4 linked regions of the Homo sapiens genome follow. The protein of the gene in region 1 purifies or fractionates together with the protein of each later gene. This does not show direct contact. Each region holds a gene or a part of one and is shown in the gene's direction. Other genes may lie near its edges. The genes, in order: HSD3B2, MACROH2A1, TOP2B and CTSF.

The links.
Region 2: the proteins of HSD3B2 (region 1) and MACROH2A1 purify together in Homo sapiens (affinity purification with mass spectrometry; 2 studies listed by BioGRID and IntAct, with this or other methods). This does not show direct contact.
Region 3: the proteins of HSD3B2 (region 1) and TOP2B purify together in Homo sapiens (affinity purification with mass spectrometry; 2 studies listed by BioGRID and IntAct, with this or other methods). This does not show direct contact.
Region 4: the proteins of HSD3B2 (region 1) and CTSF purify together in Homo sapiens (affinity purification with mass spectrometry; 2 studies listed by BioGRID and IntAct, with this or other methods). This does not show direct contact.

Annotation. Positions count from the first base shown.
Region 1 is NC_000001.11:119,410,366-119,418,717, forward strand, and holds the start of HSD3B2 (3 beta-hydroxysteroid dehydrogenase/Delta 5-->4-isomerase type 2), read left to right. Parts: upstream 1-4,784; 5' UTR 4,785-4,837; intron 4,838-4,965; 5' UTR 4,966-5,054; coding exon 5,055-5,196; intron 5,197-8,352. UniProt on the Homo sapiens protein: 3-beta-HSD is a bifunctional enzyme, that catalyzes the oxidative conversion of Delta(5)-ene-3-beta-hydroxy steroid, and the oxidative conversion of ketosteroids.
Region 2 is NC_000005.10:135,339,509-135,348,025, reverse strand, and holds part of MACROH2A1 (core histone macro-H2A.1), read left to right. Parts: intron 1-1,968; coding exon 1,969-2,058; intron 2,059-3,345; exon of another isoform or gene 3,346-4,591; coding exon 4,592-4,766; exon of another isoform or gene 4,767-4,871; intron 4,872-8,450; exon of another isoform or gene 8,451-8,517. UniProt on the Homo sapiens protein: Variant histone H2A which replaces conventional H2A in a subset of nucleosomes where it represses transcription. Nucleosomes wrap and compact DNA into chromatin, limiting DNA accessibility to the cellular machineries which require DNA as a template.
Region 3 is NC_000003.12:25,626,118-25,634,634, reverse strand, and holds part of TOP2B (DNA topoisomerase 2-beta), read left to right. Parts: intron 1-620; coding exon 621-794; intron 795-1,840; coding exon 1,841-1,942; intron 1,943-2,051; coding exon 2,052-2,189; intron 2,190-3,695; coding exon 3,696-3,834; intron 3,835-4,165; coding exon 4,166-4,323; intron 4,324-4,480; coding exon 4,481-4,606; intron 4,607-5,489; coding exon 5,490-5,600; intron 5,601-5,682; coding exon 5,683-5,788; intron 5,789-7,338; coding exon 7,339-7,448; intron 7,449-7,770; coding exon 7,771-7,863; intron 7,864-7,960; coding exon 7,961-8,075; intron 8,076-8,517. UniProt on the Homo sapiens protein: Key decatenating enzyme that alters DNA topology by binding to two double-stranded DNA molecules, generating a double-stranded break in one of the strands, passing the intact strand through the broken strand, and religating the broken strand.
Region 4 is NC_000011.10:66,562,964-66,566,626, reverse strand, and holds the end of CTSF (cathepsin F precursor), read left to right. Parts: intron 1-222; coding exon 223-336; intron 337-459; coding exon 460-605; intron 606-699; coding exon 700-796; intron 797-875; coding exon 876-956; intron 957-1,620; coding exon 1,621-1,740; intron 1,741-1,820; coding exon 1,821-1,885; intron 1,886-1,978; coding exon 1,979-2,069; intron 2,070-2,480; coding exon 2,481-2,539; intron 2,540-2,619; coding exon 2,620-2,694; 3' UTR 2,695-3,163; downstream 3,164-3,663. Other genes in the region: ACTN3 (alpha-actinin-3), read right to left, coding at 3,434-3,592. UniProt on the Homo sapiens protein: Thiol protease which is believed to participate in intracellular degradation and turnover of proteins. Has also been implicated in tumor invasion and metastasis.

The DNA of each region.
Region 1 (8,352 bases):
CACTTTTTCCTTCTACTCCTCAACGCACAGATGAATTGTGGGTTGTACTTTCCAGTTGAACTTTCAACCCAAATATTCGAGGAAATTGCTCTTACCAAATTACTTAGGATGTTGCCAAAACCAATGGTCAATTCTCTTCCTATTGTATTTGATGCACCAGCAGCATCCATCATAGTGGACCACGCTCCTCTTGAAACACTTTCTCCAGTTGACTTTTACAATGCCATCCCCTCCTAATTTTCCTCCTGCCACCAACTTCTACTCAGTATCTTTAGCTGGCCCCTCCTCCTCTTTTCAACCTCTAAATGTTGATATATCTATTCCAGGATTCAGTCTGGAAACTTTTCCTTTTATCCATGAATATTATTACCCTAGCTTATTTCATCTAGTCCTGTGCCTTTAAAAATTATTATATGCTTCTCACATACAAATTGACCTCTCTAGGACTAGCACAGGGGGTGTAATTATCCTAAAGTAACCCAGAATTTTAATAAGCTGGCCAAGAAGAGGGATTTTCCTTTTTCCAGCATGAGGGACTGTGCCTAATATAGCTCCCTGTAGAATGGGTGTCTTCTCCCCTAAGAAAAGGGAAACTCTTTGCATGAGTCCCAAGGACTCTAGGTGCTGGGTAGTTGATTTTCGCAGACAATCTTGTGAATAGCTGGCACCTAAATCCAGACTGTTTCACGCCAACAGCCTGTATTCCTCCCTTGAGGATCCTGTGTCCTTGTGCTTACATCATAAAAAGTTATAATAAGGGATGTAAGCCTGTGTCCTTGTGCTTACATCATAAAAAGTTATAATAAGGGAGATTAGTGTTCCTACACTGGAATGAATACTCACATTGTTAGCCCAGCAATTTCCTAACAATTTATGCATCAGCATAAGATAGGAGGATGGGGAAATCATGCTGCCTATTCTTTTGCTGATCAGTAATCTTTGTGAGTTTTCCTAATACAGCATATTATTTAACCCGTGATCATCATATTGAGAAATTCTTTACAAACTCTGATGCCAATAGGTGGTAACTCAGATGAGTATCACTTTACACAGCATGCTGACCTTCTCTGAGCATGTGGAGGACAATTTCATTGTCTCAGGATTGCATGTATGAAAGACTATCATTTTTTCCATTGAATTTGCTTTTGTCAAAATCAATTGGTCGTACGAATTTAGGCCATTAACTCACACATAAGCAAAAATTCTCTCAACATGGATTATAGGCCTAAATGTAAGGGCTAAACTATACACTTCTTGAAGAAATCAGAGATTAATACATACATGACACTGGATTAGGCAAAAGCCCAAATTTTCCTGGTAGAAGGAAAAAAGTCGAAAAATGAGACATGATCAAAACTAAAAATGTTTACATGTTAAAAGACATCAATAAGAAAATGAAAAGATAAGCCACAGACTGGAGGAAAAAAATTTAAATCATATATTTGATAAAGGACTCATATCCAGAATGTAAAATGCACTCACAACTAAACAACAAAAAGAAAAATAACCCAATTTTAAAATGAGCAAGATATTTGAATAATCATTTCACCAAAAAGGTGTAGGAATGGCCAATAAAGTACAGAAAAGATGGTGAGCATCATCAGTCAGCAGGGAAATACAAATCAAAACTACAATGTGACACCACTTCTTACCCACTAGAATGCTATACTAAAAATAAAACAATAACAATTGGAGGAAGTGAAAGCACAATGATGTGGGAAAATTGAAATACTCATGCATTGTTGATGGGACAGGCAGCCATGTTCAAAAACATTTTGGCTGTTCCTTAAAACATTAAAGATGCACTTACCATATGACCTAGCAGTTTTACTCCTGTCAACCCTAAAGAAATAAAAATGTATGTCTACACAATACATGAATGTGAATATTCATAGCAGCTTTATCCATAATGCACTTTGGGAGGCCAAGGTGGGCAGATCATGAGGTCAAGAGATCGAGACCATCCTGGCCAACATGGTGAGACCTTGTCTCTCCTAAAAATACAAAAATTAGCTGGGCATGGTGGCGTGCACCTGTAGTCCCAGCTACTCGGGAGGCTGAGGCAGGAGAATCGCTTGAACCCAGGAGGCGGAGGTTGCAGTGAGCCGGGATTATGCTACTGCACTCCAGCCTGGTGACAGAGTGACACTCCATCTCAAAAAAAAAAAAAAAAAAGGGGGGGAAACACATAAATATCTATCAACTGATAAATGAATAAACTAATGGCAGCCATCCATACAATTTAATAGAATTTGCCACCTAAAAGGAATGAAATATTGATACATGCTACAACATAGATGAAACACATAAGTATATTAAGCTATGTGAAAGAAGGCAGATGCAAAAGACCACATATTACATGATTCTAGTTATATGGTGTCCAGAAAATCAAATCTGTGGAGTCAGGAAGTCATGAGGGCTGCCTAGAGCTGGGGGCTGGGAATAAGAGGTGGCAAATGATAAGCATGAGGGATTTCTTAGGAAAGATAGAAATGTTCCAAAACAGGATTGTGATGATGGTTACACAAGTCTAAAATTTTACTAAAAATAATTGAACTGTACACTTAAAATGGGAATGTTATAATATGTCAATTATACTTCAGTAAAGCTGTTTAAAAACAGAAAGTTGGTAGTGTGGCCCCCAGCAGCCTTGCTCTTTGTCCTACTGCTCACTTTCCTAAAGAAAGCAAAATATTTATTGGTTTAAAGAAAGCTTACAGTTATTGCTTCCACTCAGACTCCAAGAGACACTGCCTGAACTCTAAGAGCCTCCAGAACTCTCAACAGCTGAAGGAACATTTGGTCCCACCCTGAAGGTCATGGGGGTCTGTAAGGTGCACTCCAGCATCTGATATGGCAGGCAAAGGTGTGTGATGCACCTGGGTGGTTTCAGATAGTGCTCCACAAGTCCCAGGGCCCGTGTCTAGTTCTGAGAGCTTCAGAAGACAAGCTGCTACACCTTGCATCACAGGACCAACCTTTCCTAGGCAAGTGGGTTTGAAGCATTGGCAGCCAGGTTCCAAGTAGAAGGTGAATGTCTACACACAGGAGAAAGGCAAGACCCAGAATGGGGAGTCAAGCTAAATCATTTGTAGAGTATGACTTCCAACAACTTCAGAAAGCATTCTTTTGAAGTGCTTATGGCATTTCCACCAACATAGACCATAGGCTGGACCATAAAACAAATCTCAATATATATCAAAGAATCAAAATCATACAGAGTATATGCTCTGGCCACAATAATATTTAATTAGAAATACATAACAATAAGAAAATCCCCAGTTTTAGAAAACATGCAACATGCTTCTCAATAACACTTGGGTCAAAGAAGACATCACAAGAAAAAATTCAAAACGTCAGTAACTGAATAATGATAACCCAATGCATCAAAATGTTGGATACAGCTAACATAGTGTTTAGAGAGAAATTTACAACTTTAAATGCCTATGGTGGAAATGAGCAAAGAAGTAAAGTCAATTATCTATGCTTTTATCATAAGAACCCTGAAAAAGAAGAGTAAAATAAACCCAAAGTTAATAAACATTTAAGCCAATAATAAAAATAATGAAAATCATGAAATAGAAAAATGAACAAACAATAGAGACAATCAGTGGTCAATTTTTCTGTACTCCATGAACAAAACTTCAGTTCAGAATGATTTTATATTTAAATATATATCCAGAATCACAAAGATCTTAGAAGAAAAAATTAGGAAAATATAGGAATAAAGTGGGAACTCTGTGGGAATAAAAATCAGAAAGTAATTGCCTACCAGGTAAACTCGGGGGAGGGCAGGCAATTGACTAAGAACAGGCAGATAAAACTTTCTGGAGTGAAGGAAATGGTGGTCTTCTTTTCGTTGGTACTTACATGGACATATATAACTGTCAAGGTTCATTGACAATGAACACTTAAGTGTACACTGAACGCTTAAGATCTGGGCCTTGTAATGCCCAGATTACATCTACTTAAAAAAACTACATCTCTATTTTTTTAAGTAGAGAAAAGTGTCTTGGGGAGTTTATGGCAGTGATGTTTGGGCAGACTGGGGCATAGGTTTCAGAAGCATTCATAGCATCTTCAGTTCAACAATTTGCTAAGAATGGTTTTGCAGCCAAAAATGTAAGATGAGTGCAAATATCTATGATTAGAGTCATTGGGCATACAACTACAAATCCCCACACTTGTATTACAGGCCATATGATTAATTCGTTATCACTAGATACCTTTCCTTCAATGAGGTTCTTCCATTAGGAACCCAGAGCTCTCCAGGGAAAAATTGCAATTGAGGTTTTGGATATATTGGGTGGAAAAGAAAGTCACCTCACATAAAACTTAGTGATTGGAGCTGTCACCATTGAAAATTTCTAAACTTTGCAAGACAGCAGTGACGTTTCAAATGACACTCTCAGAGAGTTGATAATGGGCTAAAATAGATCTCCCTCCAGGTGGATTTACTGTACAAGGACAACATTTACATTGCACTTGGAGACTTCTCCCAGTTTGGTTTAAGTTCACAGATTGCAGATCCCAGACAGCTGGTATCAACTGACCAGTGTTCTGTTAAGGCTAAAGCCAAGACTCTTTATCACACTGTGGCCTTAAGATTGGATTTCTCTTCCTGTTCCTGGGAAGAATTAGAGATATAACCTAAAGGTCACTATTATTCTGAGAAAAGGGATTCTGGAGGAGGAGGGAGCAATGAGTATGTGGCAGGAGTTCAAGGTAATAAGGGCTGAGACACAAGCCACAGAGCATAAAGCTCCAGTCCTTCCTCCAGGGATGAGGCAGTAAGGACTTGGACTCCTCTGTCCAGCTTTTAACAATCTAAGTTACGGTTAGAGCTTTCTCCTTTTCTTTCAACTACTCCTGGCAGTTGTGGGGTCATGGAATTTTTGTAAAAAATGGGGTGGAGGAAAATAAGGCATCTGCTGAGTGTATAACCATTTTACCTCTTGTTTTTAGCCCTCTTCTGGGTCACGCTAGAATCAGATCTGCTCTCCAGCATCTTCTGTTTCCTGGCAAGTGTTTCCTGCTACTTTGGATTGGCCACGATGGGCTGGAGCTGCCTTGTGACAGGAGCAGGAGGGCTTCTGGGTCAGAGGATCGTCCGCCTGTTGGTGGAAGAGAAGGAACTGAAGGAGATCAGGGCCTTGGACAAGGCCTTCAGACCAGAATTGAGAGAGGAATTTTCTAGTAAGTAAACTTGAGTCATGGGTCTGTGGCTCCATCTTAAACTCTGCATGGGTGTGGGGAGGTTGACCTTGTCTAGCAAGTTAAGGAAAGTTGTAGCCAAATGAAAGCCAGTCACACATCTAAAGTCATCAGAAAGGAAATAGAATAAAATGGTATAGTGTGAAAGATACTGGATGGGGTGTCCAGAGACTGGATTCTGGCCCTGACGCAGAACTTGAGAGGCAGCCATGTCAGCCTCAAGGCCCCTTTTCTTCTCTTCTAGAGAGTCACACATGAGTTCTCCTTCTTGTCTACAACTCTTATGTTCTGAAGCTTTTTGTCTTGGCGATTGCTGTGCGACATTCACAAAGGACATCATTTACCTGGAGACCTCACCAGTGGGTCCTGCCTGTCTAGACTGCCCCAGGCTTCATTTCATTTTATAGCTTCCTTAGTATCTTTAGTGAGGGCAAAATAAAAGGAAGTGAAGGTACGGATGTGTGTGTAATTGTGTGTGTGTGTCAGACAGAGAAAGAAAATGAGGGGGAAAGAAGGTCAGAGACAGAGAATGAGAAAGACAGAGAATGAATGAGAAAGATAGTGTGAGGGAGAGCATCAGCAAGAGAGAGAGAGTGAAAGTGAGAGAGATCATCAGTGAGAGAGAGAGAAAGAGAGAAAGAGAGCATGCACAAGTGCACGGCACAGAGCAGAGACAGAGTAAAAGGCAGTATGAGGCCAACATGCCTCATTTATATTTCTCATATATAGCCTTTTTAAAAAAAAACCATTTGTATCTGTTGTTCAATACTCCAAATAAATTGACTGCAGAATTTGCTGTAGTAACTCTTTGTGCAAATAACCCTGTGAGGAAGGTAGAAAAGGGGTCACCTCCAACTGGACAATGAACCCATCAAGTTCCAGAAACATAAAGTTACTTGCCAAGAACAGCTGATTAATGTGTAGCAGAGCTCAGACCAGAGCTTCATTCCAGAAGCTTCATCACTTGACCCCCGGGCTAATCCTTGGTGGGTCTTCAGTCTCTCCCTTTGCCTCTCTGTGTGCCCCAAACCAATTCCATGTTTTCCTCCCAACCCAGGGGACTGGGGGAACTATGTATCTTCTTCATGCAGGTTCTGGCTGCCTAGAAGGTCCTGCCCTGTTCACACAGAAGCTCCCCTTGACACTCTCCTCTTCTTTCACTCTTCTCTGACCTCTTTAAATGTCCAATTTCCTCCACTCTCTGTTCTAATAGTGAACAGATATTAACACATGACTGATATTAAATGTTTGTAATCCTTATGTCTCAGCAATATTTACAATCTAACATCTGATACCAGGAAAAAGCAATGCTCAGTCTAGAGGAAGAGTTCTGCTATGGTGAAAATGCAGGGAGCATAATGGATGGGCAGGGCCTGTATGAAGATAAAAACAGAGAATCCTTTCAGTGTTCTTTCTGTGCCAGGCACTGTGCTAAAGGTTTTGCATGTGCTGACTCATTTACTTCCCATAACAACCCTATGAGATGGGTAATACTATTATCCTCCTTTTTTATAGATGAGGAGACAGACACAGAGAGGTTAATCAACTTGTCGAAGGTCCCAAGTTAGATTACGGCAAAGCTGGATTTGAATCCAGGCAGTCTAGTGCAGCTTCTGTGCTCTTAAGTAGTAGTTTGTCTAGCAGCTTCTCTGAGCCTCCCTCCAGCCCAACACACAACACAAAAGCAACTGAATTTAGTCTACATGAAACACTTGCCAAGTCCACAGTGCCTTGGAGAAGGAGGGAGCTAAGACTCCATCAAAAATTGCGCTTTTCTGGTCTCTCTAGATCCATGGAAACTCACCGGGGAAGAGTCATTTTCTATCGGCTTTGGACTTCTGCTATGAAATGGCAATTCCTTTGAGCCAGTCTGTCTAAAGTCGGCAGCAAAGGAGAAGCAGATGAAGGGAGTAGAAAAGGTAGAGGTGGAAATACAACCAGAGAAAATTCCACTCTCGGGCTGACACCCACCTCCTCCCCAGCAGCCTCTTCCCTGCCTCCACCATTCCAGGGCCTTCTTGGAGTTGCCTGACAGTGGGAAGGGGCTGGGAGTAGACAAAACAAGGCAGAGGCATCAGAAGAGCAAATGGTCCCACCTGTATCCCAGGAAGGAATTTCTCCAGCCTTGAATTTTTCATTCTGAATTTCGCTCTCACTGTTCTTTGGCCTTTGTGGGCATTTTCAGTTAAACTGGCTTATTCTTACTCTTTCTCAGAAAAGTTGATTCTAAACAGCTATTCCTGCACCTGGGGTACAGGGTACAAAAATGGCAGGTGGAATGGGCAGGTTTGAGCCTTCACTAGAAAATTGACTTTAGATCTGTCCCTTAACCTCTCTGAGCCTCAGTTTCCTCACCAATAAAGTGGGACTCAGAATACCTACCTCACGAGATAGCTGTAAAAGGAAATAAGCAAGCTGTGAGCCGTATGCAGATTATAAAGCACAAATGAGTGTAGAGTATTTATCTGAGCTCCATGTAGCATGGTGTTCATTTTGTGGGCTAATTCCAGGTGACAACTTTACCGGCAGCGTCACTACCTGTGGATTTCAGAGGAGCCTGAAGATATGGATGTTACATCCGCTGCCCTTGGCTAGACATTAGACAGCTGAGATGTTAGTTCATTGGTGGCTAACTCATTTTCAGCATTGCTATCTGCTTTTTATGATATCTGATAAAAGTTTCTCAATGAAATTAATCATTTAAGCCCATCTGCAATTCCTGAGTAATGGCTCCACTCTCCTCCCAGTTGCCCAAGCAGGAAACTGTAAGGGTGATTTTGTCTCCTTTTCCTCTCATCCCAGCTCCAGTAGGTACCAGGACCTTCAAGGTGAGGTCTGAAATTCAAACCTGGAGTGCATCTCTCCCCTCCTCTGCTTCCACTGCTGGACCCTGGTTCCAGTCCTCATCTAAACTTTGGCACAGACATTCTGATTAATCTCTTGATCACCTGGCTTTCTCATTTCCCCTATACCAGTCTGTTTTATATCCTCAAGCCAAGGTAAACTTCCTACGCCACAACTCTGCGTCTGTTTATCTTTTATTATTATTACTATTATTATTATTATTATTATTATTATTATTATTATTTTGAGACAGGGTCTTTCTCTGCCACTGAGGCTAGCATGCAGTGGCATGAT
Region 2 (8,517 bases), on another chromosome or scaffold:
AACACTCTTCCTAAGATAAAACACCTTTAATTATAGATCAGCCCATTTTCTTAAATATTTTAGAAAGGAGTTGGTAATCATGATAAAGTAAAAACATTATTTTACCTTTCAAATTTCTCAGTTCTCACCAAAGAGTTAATCTGATAAAGACTGAGAATGCTAACTAGTCCAGCCTCCAGCATTTTTGTTGCCCTGCCTCAAGCTGGAGAATGGGTTTAAGACAGAAGGCTAGACTGGGCCCCAGGGGCAGCAGTGTGTGGAATCCAGCTGGTTCCGGCTCCAGATTCCTTTTTCTCAGCTGCAGGGATAGTTTAGGTGAACCTGTATTGGGGTCTCACTCGCCTGGGTTGCATCCACTTTGTAGTGGTGGAGTTGGGCTCTAAGCCCCCGGCCTGCTTCCTCCAGTGCATGCCCCATTCAGCTGCCACCTCTGATGCTGACTTTACTAGAAACATGCAGCAGCAACAGGTGTGACATTCTCACTCTGCCATTTAAAGCCTGTGCTGCTTTCCAGGACAGGTAGAGGCAGGAGGGCAGTCTGAGATCATGAAGGGTAACACAAAATCCCACCTCAAGGATGCTAAGTTTGTGCCACCCTCTCTCGGACACAGCTGAGAGCTCCCCTGGGCTATGGCTGCTGGTCATGTTCATCTGCACACCCCAGGTTTCCTACAGCGGGTGGGTACAGGCCCAGTCCTAGCCATTAGCCCTGGTTCTTATTTGGGACAAAGCCCAAGCTATTTACTCTTCTTCCCAGACACCTCCCGGGGTTAGTTCACCCCTGCAGAACAAACATTCAAAGGAGGCAAGTTTCACTAAGATAATTAACCCTGGTCATCGCAGGGTGACTCCAAAGAGAATTTGGGCTGGTGCATTCCGATGCACCTTGACCGTCCCATACCAGAATTGTGCCAGGTGCACCTGGAATTTTCCAAGACAGATGTGAATCTTAAGGGGAGTATTTTGTCCTCTTGTGAGGAAAAGTACTTTAAAATGTGCAAAACTGAGGAATCAGAGCTTAAGGAAGACTCAGACCCCATTCTGGCCAAACTTGAAAGGCTGATCTTGTTGCTAACTTTGATTGCCACTTGCTATCCCACATGAGCATCAACCCAGAGTTCTCATAGGTGTTGGTGATCTTGTTTGGGAACTTGGTTTTCACAGCAGGAACTGATTACTTAGCAAGTGCCCTAATTGAAGAAAACACATTGCTCCCAATCTCCATTGGCTTTTGTGAAAAATCTGGTCCTGAGCAGTTAGACATCCTCCTTTCCAAGCTTTTTATAGAACACAGATTAATCTTTAAGCTCTGCTTCTGATGTTGCCCTTCTTTACTGAAAACAATTCTGAATCATTAGTGTAATTAAGAAAATACCGTCTGAGGCCATTTTTATTTTGTATTTGCATATGACACCAAAGCTGCAAAACAGGAACTAAGCATGGTAATAATGCTGGTCCAAAGGTGGCCAGGTATGAACACTTCCTTCTAGGCCTGCTGCCAGGAGGAGAGCTGGCTTATTGATGGGAGCATTGTATGCTGCTGAAACCTCCTTACTTGGGGGTTCTCCCCAGAGACAGAGAAGAAAACCTAAGGCAGGCATTAGTCTTGGAAACCAGTACCAGCTAGTATCTCATGCCAATGAAAAGCATCCAGGACAAGCATGTTTGCAAAAAACAAGCATGTCCTGTCTCTTTCACATCTCTGGCACATCCATGATCACCCTGAGTCAGACCCAAATAAGGGGCAGCAGAGACAGCCAGATGAAGCAGCAATTTGAGGGTAGTAACTGGTGATGACAAAGCCCTTCTCAATTTTACTTTATTAACTTAGCCAAGGCTTAGTTCCTGTTTTGCAGCCTGATGGAAATTTAATAGATCATTTGAAGTATGTAATCACCTGACATGCTAAGTGTCTGTGTGTGCCGGAGACACAGAATGGCAACCTGACCCCACCCTGTCCTTGTCTAGGAAACACGCTGGAGAAGAAAGGTGGCAAGGAGTTTGTGGAAGCTGTCCTGGAACTCCGGAAAAAGAACGGGCCCTTGGAAGTAGCTGGAGGTGAGGTGGGAAAGCCACCGTGCTTATCTGGTTGTGACACATGCAGTATTAGGAAAGCCATTTTGTGAGAGGGCTTAGAATTCAGAGGTGTGTGGCAGCACAGCCGCATCTTCAAGATGGAGGCCAAGGACAGCCTGTAGCTTTACATCTTAGAGTTTCACCACATGCAGGTTGTCTGGGAAAATCACCTTTGCATTTTTTTTTATTACTTAAAATAGCTCCTATATGTTTGATGTCTAGATCACAAATTTTAAGAAATTATAGGAGCTGAGTTTGGTACATCTAAGAGCTGAGAGTGAGTGATACTGAGCCATCTGCAAAACTGCTGGTGAGAGATACAAATTAAAAATCTTCAGCCATCTGTGTGTGTAAGAGGAAACATATAAATACACATTTCTCATTTGCCAATTACACCTTCCCTGGTATAAGGGGAAGAAAACGACTTGGCATCTGATGTGGGGAGAATTATTGCTAAGACCTGGAGGCAGGGTACTTCTTACTGCTTCAGGCCTGAATTTAGGTGGTCATTTGGGGTGTGCAGGACAGAGCACCTCCTAAGGACCTGAGAGTCCAGTCAGTGGGGAGGCCCAGCTCCCCCACCAACTGTGTGAGGACAGATCACCCACTTCCTCACTTGGGGCTCTGGTTTTCTCTTCTTACTACCCGATTCCAATGCCTATTGTGTCTTTTAAATCCTCTGTTTTAAAAATGAATCTTAAGCTCTCTCGGAGGGTCCACCAGGCCGTGCACCTCTATTCCCAGTGACAAATGACACCCCTTCCAGGCTAGTCTCAGGATCCAGTAGGATTCCCTTTGCTGATCTGTGCCTTTGACCTCTGCTCTGCCACTTCTGTTTTACCTGCAAGGGGCATGACATACAGGGTAGTAATTATGAAGTTCTCCCAGGCAGTTCCACCAAAGTCCCACATTGTACAAGGGAAGGCATACACAGTTTTAACTACCTAGCCAGGGGCAGCTGGCCTTTCCCCAGGCCCTTTAAAACACCTGTTTGACCAGCCTGTGGGTCCTTTCCCATCGGGGTTCCAGCTTGAGTCCTGCTGGTAGCCCTTGGCACAAGGCCTGGTAGGCAGCCTGGTGCTGCCATGTACCAAACTCTGCTGGGGAAACCTCAGCCACAGCAGATGCAAACCCATTAGGTATAGCATGGTTCAAGATATTTTTGCTTGTTTCAATAACACTTTTGTTCTTGATTTTAAGGGCTATTTTAGAAACTGCTTTAAAATATTTTTGAAAGTATAAAGAGGTGAATAAAACATACTCCTGTTCCACTGTGCAAAGATAGTCACTGTTAATGTTTCTTTCCAGTCGTTTTCTATGCATAGTTTAGCCATGACTTCTCATGGGGACAAACCCACTGGTTTAATTCAACCCCCAATGTCAGGTTTTTATAGGTCAGCCCAGAGTTCTCAAGCCCAGTCACAAAGCAGAGCCAGGACTCAAATTCACACCCTGTGACTGAGCTGTTTCCACTGTACCATGAGACACTACCCACAAATCGCTCCTTCTCCAGTATCTATGACACGACCATAACAAACCATACCCCTTGGACAGATATTCCTTAAAAAAAAAAAAAGTTTCAGAAATAGCCAACCAAATACAAAAAGTTTGGATGTTTTACTTTAGCAGTGGTGTGGAGACTCTGGTGTGCTCTTGTATAGAAGCGTAGCATGCAGCTAAACCCAGTGCCCTGGAAACCTTCTTTGCAGAGCATCTGTGGACAGGGGTTCTGGAACATGCTCTGGGAGACATGGTACTTTGCAGTTTGTGGCAGACCCCAGGCCTGTGTCCTTAGATCTGGCAAGGGAAAGGCAAGTCTTTGGTGGAGATGTATAGCTAGAAAGGGGCCCCTCTTCTAGGAAAAGAAAAACACAGTTCCTTAAAAACTAATCTAATTCTGCCACAAATAAACAGGATCCGTTATTCACACAGTGAGGCCATCCTCAGCAGGGAGAAGACAATGGCAGAGTGGAGATGCTGGTCAGGTTGCTTAGCAGATCATTTAAAGCAGTTGCTTTCCTAGTAGCTTTGTCCTGAATTGGGTTTGGGAGATTTAGAGAATACATCATAGTAGAGACAAATACATCATATTGGTGTGCAAGTCGATAATTAGCACACCAGTCGACTTGAAGAAGAAGGGTTGGAAACCCAAAACAATTATTTTGAGGCTGCAAATGTTCTGACACGTTGAGTTTGCGTTCAGTTGAGTTTTGATGGATAAGGCTCTGCCTCTGGGAGAACCGTGTATGCTTTCTGAGAGTGGAGAGAGGCTTACTACGAACTTGGTCAAAATTCCTGGTGGTGACACATCATAATGCCAACTTTCCAAGGGTGTGGCTTGGCTCCAGCTCACGTTGGAATCACAACGCAGCAGACAGCTGTGGAACTCCTCGGACACAGGGCATTGGAGGGCCCAGGAAGATATACCGTGGCAGGGGAGTGGGTCTGTGTTTGGCATCTTGTGCTTTGCAGTGAACCAGAGCTCACTGTTTCTGTTTCATCCCCGCACCACTAGCTGCTGTCAGCGCAGGCCATGGCCTGCCTGCCAAGTTTGTGATCCACTGTAATAGTCCAGTTTGGGGTGCAGACAAGTGTGAAGAACTTCTGGAAAAGACAGTGAAAAACTGCTTGGCCCTGGCTGATGATAAGAAGCTGAAATCCATTGCATTTCCATCCATCGGCAGCGGCAGGTAGGGGCACATGCTTGTTACGTATCGGTCATGGGTGTGTCTCTCTGCGCACACATGGCCCATAATTGTGGTGCTCTCACTCTGTGCAAGGCCCACGGAGGCTGCCTTAACCAAGGAGACCAGAAGCACAACACAGGGAAGAATGCAGACATTAAATGATGGTGAGGGACAATTAGAGAGACCCAAATCCCAAGGATGATATAAAACTTAAGTTTTGATAGCAAATGTCATCACAGAAGGGGAACCCAGTGTGTACTGGGACCACAGAAATGGTACCTCAGAGAGTAAGTTTTGAGGGGCACAGTGACTTGGGTGGAGAAGATCTGGAGGCGTGAATACAGGGATACAAACGAACAGCTTGGCTGTCTCAGAATAAGGCTATAGCTGTGTTATGGTCTGTCCCCCAAACCACAGTATTCTTTGGATAAAGCCCTCTGCCCCTTTCCTTTCTACTCACAAGTATATTTCACCTCCTGAGAACCTGCATCTCTACCTGACTCCCTGTCTTACTGCCCTAGGGTAACCCTGCTGGCCTGCTAATGAGGTAATGGGACCTGGTGGAACGGAATGGGGAATTACGTGAGATTGAAACAGGGCTGGGCCCTACTCCACTTCCTGTCCCAGAAAATCCCCAGGTAGACTCACCAAGGTCTTCACGACCAACACAGTTGCCCCTAAGACATACACATACCCGGAGGACCACCACAGGAGAAGTCTAGTTTTTCGACAGCTGATGATGCAGGTAGGGCTCAGGGCAACCCCCACAATACCTACCTGGTTGTACACCCCACACATGTCAGCAAATAACCTATCAGGTTCCTGCCTGTTGGAGCAGCACTGCACTCTGGCTTAGGGGTCAGGCCTGGAGTTGCATCCTGGCTTGGCCACTAACCCGGTGAGTGATGACATGTAAATTAACCCCCATTCTGAGAAGTTGGCATAATAATCCCCCCATGCAGTATCTCAGGGTTGCTCTAGAAATTAAAGGAGCTCTTAGAAGGCAGAGTGCTTTCAGAAGTGTGTCCCATGATGCAGACATGAGGACCTGTCAGGGCAGAGCCACCTCTGAGATTGTGTCCCACTGCCCATTGCTAGGGTCCTCCCTACCAAGGGTCTAAGTCCAAGAGTCCAAGGCCTCTGGAAGGCTCGAGGTCTGCATTGGGCACTGAAGCAAAGAGAAACTGGCCTTTAGAGGCTGTAGCTGTTAACAACTTGCGCCCAAGAGGAGCCATAACCTGGGGTTCTGTATTGGCAGGTGGCTTGCTTTGGACAGAGTACCTGCCACTGCTCCTGGGGCTTCCCATCCCAGCTTGTGAGCCTTCTGGGGTCTCTGCCCATCAGCCCCTCCCAGCACCCAAGGAAGGCAGGGCTGTGCAGCATCAACTGCCTATGACACTGCAGGCTGTCCCTTCTGGGCGAGCCTGAGCAACAGTCCTCAGAACCATGTCCTGAACTGACAGCTGCTCTCTGCAAAGCACTTTCCTTCCAAACTTTCTAGAGGATAGAGAGTAGATTTTGCCATTTTCCGCTTAGGCAGGCCTCGTGATTTTGCCTCCTGCATGCTGCCATCACTGAGGTCCCACACCTCAAGTACTGGTGGCAGAACTAGTACAGAGTGGGCTTCCTGTCACTTGACATTCTGCCTAGTAAAAGGCCTTGTCCACAGGCAGATGGGCACTGCCACCGTTCCCCAGGGCTTTCTATGGCCAAGGCCATGTGTGACTGGCAGGACCCACCAGTACCAGGCTCTGGGGAAAGATCTCTGGTTGCACCTGAACCTTCTCTGGAGCCTGTATCACTGCCCGCCACCCGCCGCCACCCCCACTTCTCCCAGTCAAGGGCAAAACAGCAGAATGAGCATTTCCCCAGCAACCCCTCACCAGTTGTTGAGCTATGGGCAGGCTTGCCTCCCCCTTCCCTGGCCTCACATCTCTGGGCTGTCTGGTCCTGGGGTTCTGTGAGTGAGGCCCCTCAGCTCTCCTATCCTGTGTGACCTTTGGTTAAATGAATCAGCCTCTCTGCCCTGGTCTGCCTTATCAGCAAGTGAGGCTATAGGGACTGCCCATCCTCACAAATGGTTCTGAGGCTCAGTTAATTAGTGCTTTCAATGCACTTTGATCTGCTCTGATGAAAGGTGCTTCCGCAGAGGGAGGCAATAGGAAACTTTATTGGAGGTAATAATTTCACAACCTTTCATATGGGTATTGGGAAATTTTTAATTGAAGCATAAAAGTAATTCTCATAAAAGAGCATCTGTTATTACAAACTTATTTACATTTTTCATGGAGTAAAAAGTAGGAATAAAAATAATCAATTGAAAGCTTGAAGAGGGGGAAATGCCTAAGGCAGCACATGTGTACAGCTACCCAGGCCACATCTGCCAGGCAGACCTCACCCCATAGAGCTGTGTAAACAGCTGCCCTCTCTTTCATGAGTAAAAAAAAATGGGATTACACCAGAGCCGGCCAGTAAATCACAGTGGGTTTTAGGAGGGGAAATAAAACAGCTTGTTTGTTGCATCCAGTGTCTCTGGCACGGAAGTAATGTTGGAATTAAAACAGTATAAAGGTAAGCATGTTGGGAAAGAGCCATTGGTAAAGGATCACTCTCTTAGCTGAGGCCCAGTGGCACAGCCTACATGGATGGAAGATGACCATAACCACACCTGTGTGATGGCTCCCTCCAGCCTGTGAGGCCCTGGCATCTGGACATCCTGTCCTCAGCCATTCTGGTCACGATATTTATGGATACCCCCACTCCCTCAGCTCTGTTTCACATTAGGGGTGACCCCTCTCCAGAGGGGTAGTACATAGGGAATACTAGTTTGGGGCTTTGATTAAACTTTCCTTAGATTTATAAGCTTAAAAGGAAAAGCTGGTTTATTTTTTTCAAGCTACTATTTATGGGTATGTGTTGAGCCCCAGGCGCGGTGCTAAACCCTTTATCTGCATTATCTCACAGCAACCCTACAAGGTGAACAGCATTATTCCTTTCAAGGGCAAAGAAACTGAAGCATAGAGGGGTTAAGTAAATCATCTGAGGTCACTCAACTTGTACTTGGTAGAGTGAGAATTTGATCAGAAGCCCTTCGCTTCAGAGCTGTTAGGCTCATGGAACCCCTGCCTCCCATCTCCATTGGTCAGCCAGACCCCAGGTCCCACCACCTCATCCCACCATAGGACTGCCCCCTGCCTGCGTACTCTCTGTGCATAAAACACTACCTGGGAACTCCCTGACCTGCCCAAGTATAGCCATCAGCCTCTTTCCCCTCCTAAGCATTGGCCTCAGAGGTGAGATAAAAGGACAGAAACTCAAGAGACCTTTGAATGGGGGAGAATTTTTCATTTACCCAAAGCCCGGGGGCCTGGAGTGGGAGGCCACTTTGGGGCTGCCCCATCCCCTCTCTAGCTGCAGGGGGCACAGCTCAGGGGAGTGGTGGCCCCATCACCATCGCTTCTGAATGTTCTCCCTCCTGTATACCATTGCTCTCGGCTCAGGATCCTGATGACTTGGATCAAAGTGGCCTGTGGCTGGGGCAACTTCAACCTGGCAATTACTAAAAAATGGTAAAGGCCTAAGAGCAGCCCACAGCACAGTGCGAGGGGGACCTAATCTTAGCAGAAGAATGTCTATACCCTAAGTGACAGACAAAGAATACCAGAATCCACCTCTACTCCTCCCCAGCCGTCAATTGCAAGCTCGCAATCTGTCTGCTCCAGAAAAATCTCCCTGGACTCCCAGGATACAGCCT
Region 3 (8,517 bases), on another chromosome or scaffold:
TGCAAGAGTATGAATGAATGAACTTATGACTATAGTCCCTAGAAGCTTTATGCATTCAAACTAGTATACACTCTTCCAGTAGCAATTAGTCAAAATTTCTAGTTTAAAGTTCCTACTAGCTTATTAAATATCTGCCCCAGGTAAGCAAAAGCTTAGGTTTTGTGGTCTCCTACAGACACTTATGTCTCTCCAGACTTCAGGATGGCCAGCTCTCCTGTGATCTCAGTTCTTCAGTGGGTTCATGAAAAACCCATTAATTTGTTGTCTGATCACCCGTTTTCTTACAAGGATGGAAGCTTTTTTTCCTGCTAGTTCATTATCTGTCTGAACTGAAACTGGAAGTCTACCTTATCATTTTAAAAATAGAAATTTCTGAAATATTTTATAACAATTTACCTGTCCCTTCACATCCTCTTTTTGTCAAGTACACATAGAAATGAATTTCTTTTTTAAAGGTCAAGGGTTAAGGAATAGATCTGGGAAATGCCACTAAGGTTTGGATCGGTGCACTTAGAACTGTTGTAAGTGAGAGGAAATGAAAGTATACGTACTGAAGGTGATTCACCTATTTGAGCTGCCAGTGTAAGATTTTTAATTGTTTTTGTTTTTTAAATTAATAGGTAAATGGATTTCGCAGTTATGTAGATCTTTATGTGAAAGACAAATTGGATGAAACTGGGGTGGCCCTGAAAGTTATTCATGAGCTTGCAAATGAAAGATGGGATGTTTGTCTCACATTGAGTGAAAAAGGATTCCAGCAAATCAGCTTTGTAAATAGTATTGCAACTACAAAAGTAAGTAAGCAAATTATTTGTTTCCAAGTCAGTGGTAGAACAGTACTTCAATAAAAACTACAAAACAAATAACAATATCCACAACCCCCAAAAAACCCAAATCTGTTTTTGTTAAATAAGAATTGACTTATGAAAACAAAAACCTATTTTCTATGAAATTGCTGTATTAAAATTTATTTAAACAATTATTGAGAAATAAATTTATATGACTAGTGTTTGTAGTTGAACATATTTATATTTTATGAAATTTAGAATAACAAATTCCTTTTTCTGTAACTTTTAGCCCCACCTTCCCCAACCTCTGGGGAGAGGAGAGGGGGCTGGTGACTGAGTTAAAAATCAATTATGGCTATGTGATAAAGCTCTGTAAAAACTCCTGAACAATGGAGTTCACAGAACTCCTAGGTTGGTGAATACATTTGAGGTGCCAAGAGGGTGGCATGTCTGGGTAAGGCATGGAGCTTTGTGTACCCTTTCCCCTGTACTATGCCCTATGCATCTCTTCCATTTGGCTATTATTGCTGGATCCTATATAAAAAACTTGTAAATGAAGTAAAGTGTGTTCTTGAGTTCTGTGACCTGTTCCAGCAAATTATCATTCCTGAGGAGTGGGTCATAGGTTCGTTAGAAGTACAGGAGGCCTAGGACTTGTAACTGGCATCTGAAGTGTGGGGAGTCCTGTGGGATTGAGCCCTTAACCAACCCTAAATACTTGTGCTAACTCCAGGTAGTTAGTATCAAAATTGAATTACATTGTTGAACATCCATTTGGTGTCTGGAGAATCAGAGAATTGGTTGCTGGTGTTGAAAGCACCTGAGAATTGGTGTTAGAATTGAAGTGAGGAAAGCAAACAAACAAACAAACAAAAAAAACACAGCGGTTGGTTTATTGGCTCTGTAGCCAAAATGTCTTATTTTTTTAAAATCTCAACTCTCGTTCTGAGACTCTATTACTCTTTTAGAAAATAGGGTTTATAATACAGATAAAGTATTTTGCTACTTTAACAATACAGGATTTCAGATTTCATATATTTTTTTTTCTTTAGGGTGGACGGCACGTGGATTATGTGGTAGATCAAGTTGTTGGTAAACTGATTGAAGTAGTTAAGAAAAAGAACAAAGCTGGTGTATCAGTGAAACCATTTCAAGTAAGGGATGTGTTATATATTGTACATGATGCATACATATGCATTATATATATACTGAATTACTAAATATCAGCTCTGATATTGACTTTTTTGGGTATGTTTTCAACAGGTAAAAAACCATATATGGGTTTTTATTAATTGCCTTATTGAAAATCCAACTTTTGATTCTCAGACTAAGGAAAACATGACTCTGCAGCCCAAAAGTTTTGGGTCTAAATGCCAGCTGTCAGAAAAATTTTTTAAAGCAGTGAGTAAAACTTGTATTTTTTTTATTGTTGTTATTAAGAGTTGATTAGGTAGTTTTCTTGATTTACTTTATTTGTGATTAGTTTCTTTCATCGTATTAACTGTGGGTATAAGCATGCTTGCACTACAAACTAATATGCTTAATTTGATAACTTTAAAGGGTAGACTTTAATGTTTCCTAAAACAATTGTTTTGCCAAGAACTAAAGTAGGGAATTATGTAACTAATTGCATTTTTAGCTTTGTATTGACCATTGTAAAGGTCAGATTTCCCCTAACAGATGTCCAGATCCTTATGCAACTCTTTCATCTTTTCTACTCTCATTTCAACTTGATCTACTGATTCTTATCTTTATACATGTTTAAAAATTGTGGTAACATGTATAACAAAATGTACTATTTTCTACATGTTCTTAAATTGCTTTGCTTTGCACATAATTTTTTTAGGCTACCTTAACTTCTCTAAAATAAGGTGAGAGCACAAATAAATAATGGAGATGAATCAATCACAGCCTCTCCTCTTTGGAATTTTGGTGGGGAAATGCTCTATAACTGCCCTAGAACTAATGTATTTCTCAAATTCCAAAAAGTAGATTATCAGAAACAAAAACAAAAGTTGTTTTTTAGGTTCTAACTTAAGGCCTGTAGAAATAGTACTTTTGGATCTAATCTTAATGAATTCTGAGTACAAATTATGCTATATTAATGCTTTCCCAAATTTCTGTCCTCATAACAATTGTTTCCTTGATGAAGTGATTTGATTTTAAATTTTATACTTTTTCATTTTAGGTGCACTAAGTTTAAATTTGACAACACAGTTCACCTCTTTTGTTTATGTCTTAAACATTCCAGAAAACTGTTTTATACACCTAACATCAAATCACCGAGGATGATAAAAAAACTTTTAGGACTTAGAGTTGGAGATGCTTAACTTTCTTTTCCTTTTTCTGTCTGGGTTAACATCTTGCCACAGATTGATTCACTGCAGAGTACAAACAATATGTAATGTTGAAATCTTTATTACCAAGCTATTTAAAGAATAAAAGTCTATTCATAAGTTACCAAGGTTATCCTAATGTTCCTTTTAGGTTAATACTTTTTGTCATAGTGAATTAAAGACTCACGTTTTGTATTGAAGGATATCAGAAATGTCAACGTCTGGAATTTGCCGGCTAGTAGGTTCATGTGTGGATCTGTTTTCACTGTGTTAATTTTAATAAAATTAATTTGTAACAAGAGCAATGCATATTCCTCATGGAGTTTATTATAATAGAATGTTTCTCATATGTAAAAGTTATCCTTTTTCATGTATTTATATTTTAGCTTTAATTTTACAGTAGTTGAGTAAAAGCTGATTAGCATGTATCATGATGCTTATCACCATTATTGTTTTGCCCTAAAATACCTTAAAATTGCACAGATTCCAGGTCTTGCATTAGGCCCTATACATTTTAGCTAAATGTATGAATTTTCAGCTTGTTTGTATACCATTATTCTTTTATTTTTAGGCCTCTAATTGTGGCATTGTAGAAAGTATCCTGAACTGGGTGAAATTTAAGGCTCAGACTCAGCTGAATAAGAAGTGTTCATCAGTAAAATACAGTAAAATCAAAGGTATTCCCAAACTGGATGATGCTAATGATGCTGGTAAGATTGATATTTTTAAATAAGATTTTGATTTAAGTTTCACTTTTATTTAGTTACAGAATTTTTTTATTTTCTACATATAGTTAGACTATGATTTTCCATTCAGAGTATGATTTTACTTCATTGAAATTATCACATACACAACATATTACTAATTTTCAGGGGATAGGAATTTAATAAAATATACTTAATATTTATACTGAGCAATAATGTAAAATAACTTTTATAGTCTTTCACTGTCAGCATTCTAATGTTAATTTTCTGACTTCATTTTTCTCATCAGTGAAAGTATGAGAAATTTTTACTATGTATAATTTTAAATTTCTCTCAGGTGGTAAACATTCCCTGGAGTGTACACTGATATTAACAGAGGGAGACTCTGCCAAATCACTGGCTGTGTCTGGATTAGGTGTGATTGGACGAGACAGATACGGAGTTTTTCCACTCAGGGGCAAAATTCTTAATGTACGGGAAGCTTCTCATAAACAGGTATGTATGTGTGTGTATATATATGTGTATACACACATGCACACATACATATGACATTTCTAATACTTTACTAAACTTCTCGAATTTTTAAATGTAATTTCTGACTCGTATATTTCAACACTTCAAACTACTCTCAGTGCTTTTCCTTTTTGAACAGATCATGGAAAATGCTGAAATAAATAATATTATTAAAATAGTTGGTCTACAATATAAGAAAAGTTACGATGATGCAGAATCTCTGAAAACCTTACGCTATGGAAAGATTATGATTATGACCGATCAGGTTGGTTTTAAAGTTACCACATATTTCAAATTCATGTCTTCTTCAGATTCTCCCTTTAATATTTGTTTTATGAGACTTGCCCGAAGATGGTATAACTGAAAGTGATTATACATCAGGAGGAAAAAATGAAAAAACCACGTCATTTAGTGGAAACATTTTTATGAAGCACATTTTACATTGTCTGATTTTTGGGGTAACTAAGGAGAATATAATACAGTGTGGTACTATAGCAGCCTACCTACAAGTAGGAACAAAATTATGGAATTAACAAGTAAGAAAGATTAATGATAAGGGTTAATATTTATACATGATGGCATGATTTGGAATGCACAAATACCAGGACTTAAATAGTAAAATGATGGTAATCGAGAAAGAACTAGAAAATTGAAAAGGAAGAATTTCAGATGCATTCAACTGTTTTCTCTTATGCACTCTAAAGTATTTGTAGAGAAAATCTGCAACTGAAAAAACTGCTATTAATATATAGTTTTAAGCAGAAATTTTCCAATTTTTTATCTAGGGAAGACTTGTGAATATCTGTATTACCTGGGTTTCCCTACCATTGCCCATTAAGGTGGCATTATAACCATGTTTTATTTTATGTATTTTCTATCCTTAAATCATTCTTTTAGTGAAATCTGGGGAAACTATAAAACAGATAAAATGATAATATATTTTTATAATGACAGATTCAGTCTATTACTACTATATTCTTTATTTGTGTATTAAAAAATTTAGTATGATCATCTTAATAGCTTTTGTAAAATGCATTTCTAAAATTCAGAATTTTGGTTTTTTGCATTCACGTTTTAAAATTTGTTTATATAAGTAATCATTTTATAAAAGTATTACAACATTTTTTACTTTACTAACATTTATTTAGGATCAAGATGGTTCTCACATAAAAGGCCTGCTTATTAATTTCATCCATCACAATTGGCCATCACTTTTGAAGCATGGTTTTCTTGAAGAGTTCATTACTCCTATTGTAAAGGTACTCTTTGCATTAATATATTTTTATATTGTTGTCTTAAAGGGTAGCAGAAAAACTAATTTTGTTTTTTAATTAATTTAAGGCAAGCAAAAATAAGCAGGAACTTTCCTTCTACAGTATTCCTGAATTTGACGAATGGAAAAAACATATAGAAAACCAGAAAGCCTGGAAAATAAAGTACTATAAAGGTTTGTATTTTAAAATACTTAGATTTTAAATACTGATATAAATGTATTCTTATGAAAGCAATCTAAAAGATGACTTGAAAGTTTGACTATTTTAGACTTCGAAAATAGCTATCACTGATTTTAAAGTATTGTTATAGAAAAATGTATGCAAGTAGAATAGTGTAATAGATTTCATTGAATGGGATCACCATTTCAATGGCTAGTCTTGTTTCCTGTAAACCTCCTTTATTGCCACTCCATTAGTTTGAAAAAACTTCCAGACATTATAGTCTAGTATTTCACCTATAACTACTTCAGTATGTATTTCTGAAAGAATTTTTTTAAGTAACCCATAATACCATTATCATAACCTTCTTTAATATCCTATTGTTGAGACAGGGTCTTGCTTTGTCACCCAGGCTGGAGTGCAGTAGCATGAACACAGCTCACTGCCGCCTTGACTTTCCGGGCTCAAATGATCCTCTTGCCTCAGCCCCCGCAAGTAGCTGGGACTACAGGTGTGTGCCACCACACCCAGCTAATTTTTGTATTTTTGTAGAGATGGGGTTTTGGTTTGTTGCCCAGGCTGGTCTTGGACTCCTGAGTTCAAGCCATCCACCCACCTTGGCCTCCCAAAGTATTGGGATTACAGGTGTGAGCCACCATGCCTGGCTCCCTTTTTTTTTTTTTTTTTTTAAATAATGTTAAATACCCAGCCAGTGTTAAAATTCCCCTGGACTGTATTAAAATTGTTTATTTTTAGAGTTTTTTATTTTTATTTTTATTTCGTTTTTTTTTAATTGTTTTTATTTTTTTGAGATAGAGTCTTGCTCTGTTGCCCAGGCTGGAGTGCAGTGGTGGGATCTCGGCTCTCTTCCTCATGTGTTCAAGTGATTCTCATGCTTCAGCCACCCAAGTAGCTGAGATTACAGGCATGTGCCACTATGCCTGGCTATTTGTAGTATGGGTGGGGTTTTGCTGTGTTGGCCAGGGTGGTCTAGAAGTCCCGGCCTTAAGTGATCCGCCCACCTCAGCCTCCCAAAGTGCTGGGATTACAGGCATGAGCCACCATGCTTGGCCTGAGTTTGTTTGTTTTTTTCCAAAGTCAGGATCCAAGTAAGGTCCACACATTGCATTTGGTTGATAAGTTTATTAATATAGCATTTCTCTTTTTATATTTTTTCCTTGTAATTTATTTGTTAAAGAAGTTGGGTTGTTTGTTCTGTGTAATATTCCACATTCTGGATTTTGTTAATTATATTCCTCTAGTTACATTTAATATATAGTATTTTCCTTTGCCCTTATTTTCTGTTAACTGATGGTTAAATCAGAGGCGTGATCAGATTTGGGTTACATTTGTTTGGCAAAAACATTTCATAGGTAGCGTTGTGTGCTTTCATCAGGAAGCATCTAATGTCTACTTTGTCTTTAGTTGCTTATTAAGATTGATCACTTAGTATAGGTGTTGCCAGCTTGATCCATCTATTACAACTTTTCCACCAGCTTTTTACTTGATGGTTTTAAACAGACATTGATATTCATGACTCACTTTTATTTTTAAAATTGTGCAGGATTGGGTACTAGTACAGCTAAAGAAGCAAAGGAATATTTTGCTGATATGGAAAGGCATCGCATCTTGTTTAGATATGCTGGTCCTGAAGATGATGCTGCCATTACCTTGGTAATTAAGTTAATTTTTTAAAAGCTTTTGTTAGCCATCCCCCTACCTTCTATTCCTTTCCTCCCAGTCCTGGTTCCCTATGATAAGTCTCTTTTGAATGCTCAAGCTAGTTAATTTTAATTTTTCCCCCAGATGATGCTGTGCTTGTATAAACTTCTTTAATTGAAAGACCTTAGTTTAAATGTGTTTTTGATTAAAATATTGTAAAATAACCTAATTTTCCAGAAATTAAGAATTAGTTATTGGCCACTTATACATTTTAATTTTGTAATAAAATTTATTTTATTTTTAATGTGCAAAATCGTTACCTGGAATCTTTCAGGCATTTAGTAAGAAGAAGATTGATGACAGAAAAGAATGGTTAACAAATTTTATGGAAGACCGGAGACAGCGTAGGCTACATGGCTTACCAGAGGTTAGTCTTAAAGAGTGGTGACCTGGGGAAAGAAGGAGAGAGAGACTAGAATTCATGCAGTAATAATGATAATATTGCTATATAACTTTTCTCTTAGCAATTTTTATATGGTACTGCAACAAAGCATTTGACTTATAATGATTTCATCAACAAGGAATTGATTCTCTTCTCAAACTCAGACAATGAAAGATCTATACCATCTCTTGTTGATGGTGAGTAATATTTAAAAACCTCATTTTTTAATGTTATTTACTATAGTTTAATTTCATGTACTTTAAGCCATCCTTATGATACATATTAAAATTCTTACTTTAAATCTTGTATATGAAGAGCTTATTCAGAGGAATTTAAGGCCTTTTTGATTTTGCTTTTGTTTTATGTTTTCATAGTGCTGAAATCTTTAATATTCCTTAATTTGAAACTTTTAAACCTTTTCCGAGTTTTTCAGGAAAATTAACTTTAAAAGTCTTAAAGCTTTTGCCCAAGTTGTCTGCAGATTTTCTAAAAAAGTAAAATGGAACTTTGATAATTTCTAAAATATTTATCAGAGATTAAATTTTAAAAAGCTTTTATTCTGTATTACCCAAAGCCTAATGCTTTAACTTAACTTGAAAAAAATTTAGGAACTATTTCTAATTTGAAAAAAATTTAGAA
Region 4 (3,663 bases), on another chromosome or scaffold:
TTGTGGGTGGTGTCCTTTAGACCCCATTTACTGCTTTTGCACCTGGGAAGTCATCACTTCAGTTTGGCCCTAAAAGTTGATCAGACCTCCCACTCCATCACTTGCATGTCTGGCCCCCACCCCTACCTGCTCCCCGGGGAAACCCCTGCCTGCTAGCCCCAATTGCCCTTCCTTTTATCTGCCTGGGGTCGAACCCCTCCTCTTCTGCTCCTTGGTCCTCAGAAGCCCGGTGGCGCCTGTCCGTCTTTGTCAATAACATGGTGCGAGCACAGAAGATCCAGGCCCTGGACCGTGGCACAGCTCAGTATGGAGTCACCAAGTTCAGTGATCTCACAGGTAGGGATAGTGGCCACAGTCCTCATGGATCCAGGAAGAGACAGGACCTTGCTCGCAAGGCCTCTGGTCAGGTCTGGCTTAGAACACTCTTCCTCCCCATGCCCTGCCCACCTTTGCCCGCAGAGGAGGAGTTCCGCACTATCTACCTGAATACTCTCCTGAGGAAAGAGCCTGGCAACAAGATGAAGCAAGCCAAGTCTGTGGGTGACCTCGCCCCACCTGAATGGGACTGGAGGAGTAAGGGGGCTGTCACAAAAGTCAAAGACCAGGTTGGACCCCTGGAAGTGAGGGTGGGACATGGGCACTGCACTGGGGCTGACGAAGGGGCCCGGCTCTGACTCCAACTCCACCCATCTCTTGTAGGGCATGTGTGGCTCCTGCTGGGCCTTCTCAGTCACAGGCAATGTGGAGGGCCAGTGGTTTCTCAACCAGGGGACCCTGCTCTCCCTCTCTGAACAGGGTGAGCATCTCGCTCTACTCCTCTGTCCCCAGCCTAGCCCCTCAGGAGGGCTTCTTGGGACCAGCCTTCTGTCTCCTAGAGCTCTTGGACTGTGACAAGATGGACAAGGCCTGCATGGGCGGCTTGCCCTCCAATGCCTACTCGGCCATAAAGAATTTGGGTATGCATTAATGGGGTCAGGAGGGGCAACCGGAGCCACTTCTCCCTGTACAAGAAGTTACTTCATAATGGGGGGGAGACATGAGCATGAGAGTTACACAGAACTGGGTCCAGGTCTTAATGCTGACCCAGCCAGGCGTGGTGGCTCATGCCTGTAATTCCAACACTTTGGGAGGCCAACTTGGGAAGATCACTTAAGGCCAGAAGTTCAGGACCAGGTTGGGCAACATAGCAAGACCCCATCTCTACAAAAAATTAAAGACATTAGCCAGGCATGGTGGCTTGCATCTGTAGTCTCAGCTACTTGGGGGGCTGAGGCAGGAGGATCGCTTGAGCCCAGGAGGTTGAGGCTGTAGTGAGGCATGTTTGTGCCACTGTACTCCAGCCTGGGTGAAAGACTGCTGGGATGAGCTCTTGGTGAGGAGTCAGAAGTTGGAGTTGAGTTCTGTCTCTGCCACTTTTCTTGCTGGCTACTGGTCCCTCCTCCCCATCTCTCCCAGCCTCAGATGTGTCATTTCTAGAATGAAGACATTCTTCAGAGGGGATGGCCTGTGGCCTGGGGTGGACGAGGAATGTGAAACCTCGCGTAGAGGGCTTAGTTCATTTCTGGCTGTGAATGGCAAATGGGAGCCTGCCCTTCTCTACTCACCCCCACCGTTCCCCAGGAGGGCTGGAGACAGAGGATGACTACAGCTACCAGGGTCACATGCAGTCCTGCAACTTCTCAGCAGAGAAGGCCAAGGTCTACATCAATGACTCCGTGGAGCTGAGCCAGAACGAGCAGAGTGAGTGAGGGGCAGGGTGAGGTGAGGTCAGGTGGGGCCGGGGCCTGGGTGCCTACTGATGCCACCCCTTCCCATCTCAGAGCTGGCAGCCTGGCTGGCCAAGAGAGGCCCAATCTCCGTGGCCATCAATGCCTTTGGCATGCAGGTGAGGCCCTAGCCCCACTGCCCCTGCCCCATCTCTTGTTGACCTCCCCGACCTCTTCTTGGAGTCGATCCCCTACTCCTTCTCCACCTCCAGTTTTACCGCCACGGGATCTCCCGCCCTCTCCGGCCCCTCTGCAGCCCTTGGCTCATTGACCATGCGGTGTTGCTTGTGGGCTACGGCAACCGTGAGTTCCGCTGCCTGTCCTGCATCCAGCCAGGCCACAGGCAGGGGTGGGATCACAGCATCTCAGGTCCTCTAGAGGGGAAATAGGGGGAATGCCTAGGAACCCTGTCCTTACCCACTGCCTGGGCCATGACCAGCTGGGCATCATCTGTCCTCTCTATGGCAGGGAAGCTGAGCTGTGGGAGGGTAAATATTGATGGCCTAATAACCTGCAATAGGCGGGTGGGTGCGTGCTTCCTCCCTGCCCCAGGGCTTCTCCCTGAGGCTGGTAGGTGGGCCCCTCGCTTTCTGCTCTTTTCCTAGTCCCTGTCACACAGTAGGCCCAGTGCAAGTATTTGAAGGGTGCAAAGTGATTAAGGCTCTGCCTGGAGAATTAAGGACCCTGATCCTTGCGCTCTGCACTGCACCCCAGGCTCTGACGTTCCCTTTTGGGCCATCAAGAACAGCTGGGGCACTGACTGGGGTGAGAAGGTGAGTCTTGCTGGCTTGGCCCCTGGCCCTCCAGCCGCCATCCTACCCTGGTGCCCTCACCAGCTCCCCCTCTCCCCCAGGGTTACTACTACTTGCATCGTGGGTCCGGGGCCTGTGGCGTGAACACCATGGCCAGCTCGGCGGTGGTGGACTGAAGAGGGGCCCCCAGCTCGGGACCTGGTGCTGATCAGAGTGGCTGCTGCCCCAGCCTGACATGTGTCCAGGCCCCTCCCCGGGAGGTACAGCTGGCAGAGGGAAAGGCACTGGGTACCTCAGGGTGAGCAGAGGGCACTGGGCTGGGGCACAGCCCCTGCTTCCCTGCACCCCATTCCCACCCTGAAGTTCTGCACCTGCACCTTTGTTGAATTGTGGTAGCTTAGGAGGATGTCGGGGTGAAGGGTGGTATCTTGGCAGTTGAAGCTGGGGCAAGAACTCTGGGCTTGGGTAATGAGCAGGAAGAAAATTTTCTGATCTTAAGCCCAGCTCTGTTCTGCCCCCGCTTTCCTCTGTTTGATACTATAAATTTTCTGGTTCCCTTGGATTTAGGGATAGTGTCCCTCTCCATGTCCAGGAAACTTGTAACCACCCTTTTCTAACAGCAATAAAGAGGTGTCCTTGTCCCGAGTGTGGTATAAATGCTCAGTCCCCGGGGGTGAGGAGAGATGGCAGGGACTCCTGGCGGGTCAAGGTGGGATAGCTGGTCCTGCCCAGGAGCCTGAGGGGCCAGCTTCTGCTTCAGGAACTAAAAGGAGATGGGGAGAGACCCAGAGAGGGATCTTTATTCAGAAGCACTTGGCTGGCTTTTCTCTTAGGCCCTTGCTCCGAGGGACGGATGGGATCAGCCACAGGGTGCATCCTCTCTCCATCTTGCATAGAGAACCTCAGTGGTTGGGGTCAAAGGTCGCTCTCCCCATAGAGGGCACTGGAGAAGGCCACGTAGTCCAGGGCTCCAGCCGGGGCCCCGGATCCCTTGTAGGGCACCATACGGCGGATGCAGTACTCGGCCTGCTTGGCAGGGAGCTCGCGCCGCAGCTCCTCGGGGGTGATGTAGTTCTGGGGAGAAGAGGCGTTGAGGACCCACAGGTCCCGTGCCCTGCCCTAGCCCACCAGCCCCTCCACCGCCT